Linked DNA regions of Homo sapiens: all the other regions are linked to region 3. The links come from fine-mapping of genetic effects on gene expression. A gene starts in region 3. Each other region holds a variant in brackets. All regions are shown on one strand. Distances are from middle to middle.

What was found. PIP is the estimated chance that this variant, and not a neighbour inherited with it, causes the effect.
Region 1: its variant is the best candidate, but not a certain one, in a credible set for the expression of CDH10 in atrial appendage (GTEx, PIP 0.57).
Region 2: its variant is the best candidate, but not a certain one, in a credible set for the expression of CDH10 in lung (TOPMed, PIP 0.55).

The regions. Positions count from the first base shown.
Region 1 is chr5:24,721,163-24,723,935 of GRCh38, forward strand. No RefSeq gene overlaps it. Among named protein-coding and RNA genes, the nearest start is that of CDH10, 78 kb to the left of the region's middle. The variant A/T (reference allele first, on the strand shown) is at 1,756.
Region 2 is chr5:24,241,223-24,243,995 of GRCh38, forward strand. No RefSeq gene overlaps it. Among named protein-coding and RNA genes, the nearest start is that of LINC02899, 290 kb to the left of the region's middle. The variant C/T (reference allele first, on the strand shown) is at 1,349.
Region 3 is chr5:24,643,606-24,646,378 of GRCh38, forward strand. CDH10 (cadherin 10) reads right to left here and starts at 1,373. Exons shown (of 12, transcript NM_006727.5): 1 at 989-1,373. It overlaps LOC124901174 (a long non-coding RNA gene), which reads left to right and starts at 1,104. Exons shown (of 2, transcript XR_007059125.1): 1 at 1,104-1,467; 2 at 1,706-1,909. RefSeq lists an enhancer at 1,070-1,665.

The DNA.
Region 1 (2,773 bases), 78 kb after region 3:
TTCTATTAGTCTTTATATTTGATAATTTCTATTACTCTGTCTTCAAGTTTACTTACTTTTTCTTTTGTAATCTCCAAAATTGTATTACATTAATCTAGTAATTTTTTCATGTTCTACCTTTTAATCTTTAATTTTGAAATTTCATTCATTCGTTCATATAGATGATTCTACTGCTTTGCCCAGACTACCTTTCTCTTTAATCATCATCTCAATCATTTTGTTCATATAATCGAACATAGTCACAATAGTTTTCTAAAGTCTTTGCCAATTCCAACATCTACATTATCTCAGTCAGTTTTTAAAAAATTAATTATCAATGAGAATATGCGGTGTTTGGTTTTCTGTTCTTGTGTTAGTTTGCTGAGAATGATGGTTTCCAGTGTCATCCATGTCCCTGCAAAGAACATGAACTCAACCTTTTTTATGGCTGCATAGTATTCCATGGTGTATATGTGTAACATTTTCTTCATCCAGTCTATTACTGATGAGCATTTGGGTTGGTTCCAAGTCTTTGCTATTGTGAACAGTGCCGCAATAAACATACTTGTGCATGTGTCTTGATAGTAGAATGATTTATAATCCTTTGGGTATATACCCAGTAATGGGATTGCTGGGTCAAATGATATTTCTAGTTCTAGATCCTTGAGGAATCACCACACTGTCTTCCACAATGGTTGAACTAATTTACACTCCCACCAACAGTGTAAAAGTGTTTCAATTTCTCCACATCATCTCCAGCATCTGTTGTTTCCTGACTTTTTAATGATCGCCATTCTAACTGGCGTGAGATAGGTATCCCATTGTGGTTTTGATTTGCATTTCTCTAATGACCAGTGATGATGAGCTTTTTTTCATATGTTTGTTGGCTGCATAAATGTCTTCTTTTGAGAAGTGTCTGTTTATATCTTTCTGCCACTTTTTGATGGGGTTGTTTTTTTCTTATAAATTTGTTTAAGTTTTGTAGATTCTGGATATCAGCGCTTTGTCAGATGGATAGATTGCACAAATTTTCTCCTATTCTGTGTTTGTGCTGCCTGTTCACTCTGATGATAGTTTCTTTTGCTGCACAGAAGCTCTTTAGTTTAATCAGATCCCATTATGTCTATTTTGGCTTTTGTAAATGAGGACACATGGACACAGGCAGGGGAACATCACACACCGGGGCCTGTCTGGGTGTAGGGGACTATGGGAGGGATAGCACTAGGAGAAATACCTAATGTAGATGACAGGTTGATGGGTGCAGCCAACCACCATGGCACGTGTCTACCTATGTAACAAACCTACCTGTTCTGCACATGTACCCCAGAACTTACAGTATAATTAAAAATAAATAAATAAATACTTAAAAAATAAAACATTAATTATCACTATTTTCTACTCATTCATATGTCTTATACATTTTATAACAATTATATCTATTACAGCCATTCTTGATGTCATTCTGGAAGGTCTCTGGATTGTTTTGACAAAGACTTAAATTACTGGTGAGTTATTTTGTCCTGCCAAGCTTGCTTTCATAATTACTTTAAAAATGCTCCTCCTGTTTTGCCCTTATCCTGAGGATCTGGCCTTTACTGTACAGAGAGTTGTGTTTATTTCTAAGGGATGGTTTTACTGAGGTGTGAGTGAATTTCTTCTTGGCCAGGATTCACATTTCCCCAGCACCCTTTGCCCTTTGGTATCTCTACTGAGCTTGCCACCCCATTATATTCCCTCTGTGTTAGCCTAAGATTTCACCCCATAAAACCACATATT[A/T]GTGTTAGGCAAAAATTATAGAAATGTTCATGTAAACACAGTGTCCACCTCTGTCAATCTTCAGCCTCTCTTTCCTCTTCAGCGTTTGCCTTAAAAATTTCTACCATTTCGTTGTTCTGAGCTCTGAGCTGTGCCTCTTCACATCAGCAAGAACACTATACTCTGCTTTGCCCCTTCTTCCCTATGACTACTCTGGAAAGTGCTCCTAAGCAGAAATATGGAGGAGACATGAACTTCAACTTGAATATTTCTTTACTGTCAAAGTTCACATTCCTCTTATCAATTATCTAAAAAACACTTTCTTTAATTATTCTGAGCAAGGCTAGCATCAATTACTCCATCTTTGCTAGAAGTGGAATTTGAGCTTCAATTAGATTTTGTTAATATCAAGTTTAAGTATTTGTTTCACCTCACACTAATAATGGAAATAGGAGTACAACTGTAAATGGTCCTTCAGATTAAGTGGATTCCTTGTGTGTGTTTTAATTTTAAATATTTGGCCTTAAAAATCTGACAATGCTATAAGGTATCCAAAGACATTTCCTGGCCATTTGCTTTACTGTTAGATTTTTCCAAATTTAAAGTATATAGCTGGGCATGGTGGCTCATGTCTGTGATCCCAGCACATTAGGAAGCTGAGGCAGGAGGATGGCTTGAGGCCAGGTGTTCCAGACTAGCCTTGGCAGCATAGTGAGACTCCATGCCTATAAAAACTATAAATGAAATAACAACAAGTATAAATAAAACAGATGTGTCATATTTTACATACAATACAAATTAAACATATTATGTCTTTCATTGTAATATCCCTATTTTAATCTACTTCTCTCCATCTCTACTAACACTACCGTAGTTCTCGATGGCTTTACATATGAATTTTCCTTGATTGCAATTTTCTTTTCACCCAAGTTGCCTTTTCATCTAAGCTAGTTTGTCCGTAAGGTATTCCTCACATTATAGTTGTAGTGACTTTTAAAAGTGTATAAGTATGTCGTGCCCCCATTAGAAAACATCCAGT
Region 2 (2,773 bases), 400 kb before region 3:
GCTACCACGATCTTCCTCAGCTTCTCTTTAAAGCAAAAATGCCACAAAGAGATATCTTTGGCCTGGGCGTGGCGGCTCATGCCTGTAATCCCAGCGCTTTGGGAGGCTGAGGTGGGCAGATCACGAGGTCAGGAGATCCAGACCATCTTGTCTAACACGGTGAAACCCTGTCTCTACTAAAAATACAAAAAATTAGTCAGGTATGGTGGCACAAGCCTGTAGTCCCAGCTACTCAGGAGGCTCAGGCAGGAGAATGGCTTGAACCTGGGAGGCGGAGGTTGCAGTGAGCCGAGATCGTGCCACTGCACTCCAGCATGGGCAACAGAGCGAGACTCCATCTCAAAAAAAAAAGATATCTTTACTCAATGTATTTCTTTTCATTCCTGCAATTCTCTGTTGAGTATAGAAATTAGCCGTTAACTGTCACACAAGATTAAAACTTGTATTATAGAGGTTATTGATGACAATACCAAATATATAAATGTCAATTTGCAGTATTCATCTCTTTTAGCCTACCTGAACTTGACACACTGACCACTGATTTACCTTAGGATGCGTATTTTTCCAGGATGCTAAAATAGTAATCTCTTTGGTTCTTATACTGTTTTGGACAGTCCCTCTCACACACCTTCATGAGATTTGCTTCATTTTTCCAATTTCTTAATTTTGGAGTGCCCTAGGAGTCACTTCTTAGAACTCTTGTTTCTGTCTGTACCCACCTCCAAATTTGTCTTCTTCAGTCCTGTGGCTTTAAATATGATTGTATTACCTTTCTGAGAGTGCTTTAACAAATTACCACAAAAATGAGCAGCTTAAAGCAATAGAAATGTGTTTTCTTATAGTTCTGGAACCCTTTTTCATAAATTTGAAGGCTGAGGCGGGAGTTGGGAGGGCTCCACGCCATCTGCATACCCGAAAGGAGAATCCATTTCTTGTCTCTTCTAGCTTCTGCCAACTGTCTTCATTCCTCAACTTGTGGCCTTGGGCTACATGACTGCAACTCCCTGACTCTGTAGTCACATCGCCTAGTCCCATCATCTCTTTCTTTGTGTGTCTGTTTTCTTCTGTGTGTCTCTTAGAAGAACAATTGTCATTGAATTTTGGGATTACCTCAATAATTGTAATAATCCACTTGAGCTGCTACAGCAAAATGCCATAAACTAGGTGGCTTATAAACAACAGAAATGTATTTTTCACAATTCTGGAGACTGGGAAGTCCAAGATCAGGGTGCCAGAATGGTCAAGTTTTGATGAGGGCCTTCTTCTGGGTCAAAGACCAGAAACTTCTCAGTGTGTCCTCACATGGTAGAAGGGGCAAACCAGTTTCCTCTAGCCTCTTTGATAAAAG[C/T]ACTAATCCCATTTTGGATTAAATGGGTTCTGCCATCTAATCTAATAACTGCCCAAGGGACCCACCTCTTAATACCACTACCTTGTGGGTTAAGTTTTAACATATAAATTTTGAGGAGACACAAATATTCAGACCATGACAATAACCTATGGTGATCATCTCTTTATCTCAAGATTCTAAACTTAATTACATCTGCAAGGACCCTTTTTCCAAGTAAGGTAACATTCAGTTTCCAGGGATTTCATGTGAATATCTTCTGGGGGATCTTTTTTTGTCTGCCCCAGCGATCTATAAGCCAATAACTCCAACATGTAATTCTCTAATACACAGATCTCCTATGGCATTCCGATTCTGTTTTCATATATTTGTCTGACATCTCCCTTTGTGAAATTCACAGATAGCTCAAGAAAACAAAAAAAAGTACTACCCAGTTTCGTTAGTCAGAATTCAACAGGAGAAGAAGAAATAAAAATATATGAATTACAGATATATTGAAGGTACTGGCTCTCATGATTTTGGGGACTGGCTAGTTAATTTCCAAATATCAGAGAAAGCTGGAAAAGTAGGTTGGAATTCCAGAGCCTGAGCTGAAGTGGTTGTCCACAGATAGAATTTCTTTGAACTCAGGAAAGATTTAGTTCTGCTTTTTTAAGACCTTACAAATAATAGATTCAGGCTCACCCAGTTTATCTAGGATATTTTCCCTTCCTTAAAGTCAACTGATTGTGGACGTCAATCACATCACATCTAATTAGTGTTTACTTGAATAACTGGTGATAGTAGCCTAGTTCAGTCAACTTATCAAAGAAACTATCTTATCACCACTCAATTTGTTTATTACTAAGTCTACCCAAACTCATTGTTTTAGAGCTCTATTTTTTCCTCTCTGTTAGGCCAAATAAGCATGGTGTTATGCTTGACACTTGTCTTTCCCTCACATCCCACACCCAAATAATCAGCAAATCCAATGCATATTCAGAAATGTTCAATTTCTCAGTAACTCCATCAGTACCTCTTTAGTTCAGAATGACATGATTGCTCCCGTGAATTATTTCTGTGCCTTTTAAAGTGATCTACATACTCTGGCAAATTATACTGTACTCAGCAGCTACTGTGATTCCTTCTAGTGATATATATATATATATATATATATATAATATATATATATATATATTTTTTTTTTTTTTTTTTTTTTGCTTTTTTTTTCTTTTTGCTCAAAAACTCCCAAGAAGGTTCTATTTTGGTCAAAACAAGACCTCTGGCCAAAATGCTTGTTGCTCTTCCCCTTCCCACAAACTAAATACCTCCAAACCAACTAAATCTGGACCATATCCTGTTCATGCCTCTGTATTAATCTCTTACCTTGTACTTTTAAATTTTAGTATAAACAATTATTCACAGCATTTTATATAGGAATTGCCTGGT
Region 3 (2,773 bases):
AGAAGCTTTCACTGGAATGAAGGAATGAAGGACCACAATTATAGGAAACATCTGTTTTTTCAAAGCAAAAGATGATAGGTCATTTTTAAAACAATATTTGTCTTTGTACCTGTAGACTCCCCTTTTTTCATAATAAGGAGACAGTAGGTTTTTATTTTAGTGGCATAAAAACAATTTCAGACTACTGCTTTTGCCCATAGTTACAGTGCTATCAATAGTTACTTGTTGGGGACATGCATTTATACTTGCAATATGCTGCATTAATTTAACAACACATAAAATATGGATTTTATTGCAGCAGAAACAATAAATGCTGCAACTGCTGACTACATGCATTTACTCTCCCTCTCTTTACCTCTCTCCCCCCAATACTTCTGACTCAGATATAAAATTGAAAATAAGAATTCTGCCTATTCTATTTCTGATGAATGTCAATCTATTGTATTTATGTAGATGCTTAGTGACCATTGACAGTTTCAAGGAATCTGTCTTCTGCCTGTCATTTCTGTTTATATTGAACGTACAATGAACTATGACTACGAATAAGTGCAGAGTGAATCCATTCATATGGAATGCAAAGTAATGTTAGATGATGTTAGAGTTCACAGTAACAATGTTATCTCTTGAACTGATTTTTAAAATAAAAATGAACAAGTCTGGGCATGACAAATTCACTTCATAACATATTTTTTAGCATTTGTTCCAAGTGAATGAATTCACAAACTCTAATATCATGACCCACTGTTGAGCATAATATATAATTTATCCAGCTTTACATTGCCTATATAGATATTCGAAGCAGTTGTTTCTAGAATTAAATATATAGAGTTGTATGCTTATTTAAGTATTAAAGATAATTATTTTGAAATAATTGCTAAACACAACTTAAAAACAAACATTTATCTCCTCCCTCTCCCCCCCCACCCCTCAAGTGGAGGAATATATAATACCTTAACGGAGTTAAAAGAAAGAGGTGAAGTCTTCCTACCTTTTTTATCAGCTTCTGGATAATGGAAGTTGGTTCCAGCCAAAATAACCCAGGAGAAATTGTCACTATGTCCCCTTTTTGTTTGTTTTCGGCTGTTATTTTCTATCACTGATTCTACTTCAATCTAACTCAAGCTCTTTCTCAGCATCACTTTTAACTCTGGACAGCAGGGAACCGAAGAAAACGGGGGCGAGCTCTCTCTGATTGGCTTTCATTCAGTGCTTCTGATTAAGGGGAAAGGAAAAAAAAAAAAAAGGAAAGGGGGGAAAAAAGCTCTTCCTCACACGGAGAGAAAGGTTCTGCTGATAGAGCTGCAGCACTCGCCATGGGAAGGTTAGAGACTGTGGAAGTGCTGGCTTCTGCGAGCACACAGCGATTTGCAAGTGAATGCGAGGGGAGGGCGCATCCGAGAGGAGGGCTTTGCTTGAAAGGCGTCCCCTCCCCCGCAGGGCAGAAAGACTCTCTGTTTCAAGGCTAAGGTAATCAGCCCAATCTAATCCGCCTGTGTCCGTAATACAATCTCAGGAACAGGACTGCTTCTTGCAATTTTTTTTAAAAAAAGATAGTTCTTCTGGAATATATATTCCTGCACCGTCCTTACACCAGACTACCGAAATCCAAGTATTATCAGAGCGCCAAGTCAAATTGCAACCAGATTTGATATGTTACCAGAGTGATTTTTCGTTGTGATTTTAAATGTTTATTTTTTGCTTTCAGGGAACTTTCTCGGCTTGATTTTCCAAATCCCTTCTCTTGTTGCTTATTGTCACAGGAGTGCATACCTCGCTCATCATTTTGGAATGTCCGCGAGCCAGTCTTCTCTGCCTAATCTTTGCATTTTAATACTTTATAGATAAAATATTTTATTAAAAATGTAAATATGTAATTAGTGTTATTAAAATATTTAGACTTTGAACTTGACACAGTCTCCTTTTTTTTCTTTTTAACGTTGTTTTTTCTCATAAATACGGGTTTCATACCCAAATGAGTGTGTGGACAGATGTAAATACATTTGGATTGTTCTATCTACTTAAACATCTAACTGTCTCGCTATTTATCAATCTCCACATCAAATTGCAATCAACCAAACCTTACCAAAGGATGTCAGTATAGCTCCACAAAGTAATTAACATCTTTGCATTTTTCCGGCTACAGGTAGATTCCTTTTAAAGTGCCATCCATAAATAAATTATATACACATATACATACATATATGCATATAAATACATATATGTCAATTATAGTTTTAAAGCTAGAGGAGAAATTACGAAGATCATTTTGGGCTGTTATTATTATTATTTCTTTAGCAGATAAAAATGCTCAGAATGTTAAATTGTCACAGGACTAACTGGAGGCGGGGTCAAAGCTGTAATACCACACTCCTACTTCCAGTTTAGTATTGTTTCCGGTTGCCATACTGCCTCCTCTGTACCTGTTTGATCATTCTAACAGTCAACAGGCCCCTTACATAATCAGCACAATGAAAAAGGAAGAAACTCAATCTGAGGGGCAAAAAAGAAGTGAGAGGGAGATTCAAAATTAGATTCCAAAAAGGTTTTAATGTATCACAGTGTTATTATATGATGAATTTTACCAATTAGTTTTATATTTGAAAACACCAAACATTTCCACTGAGCTGAACAGCTAAATGACATTTAGAGCAGAAATGGACTTTTGAAACTCTTAATTTTACAGACGATGGCATTAAGATCAGGAAAATTTTATGGCCCCTCTAAAGTTTGATAATAATAGAGCTAGAATTCTGAATTATCACCGTATCATTTG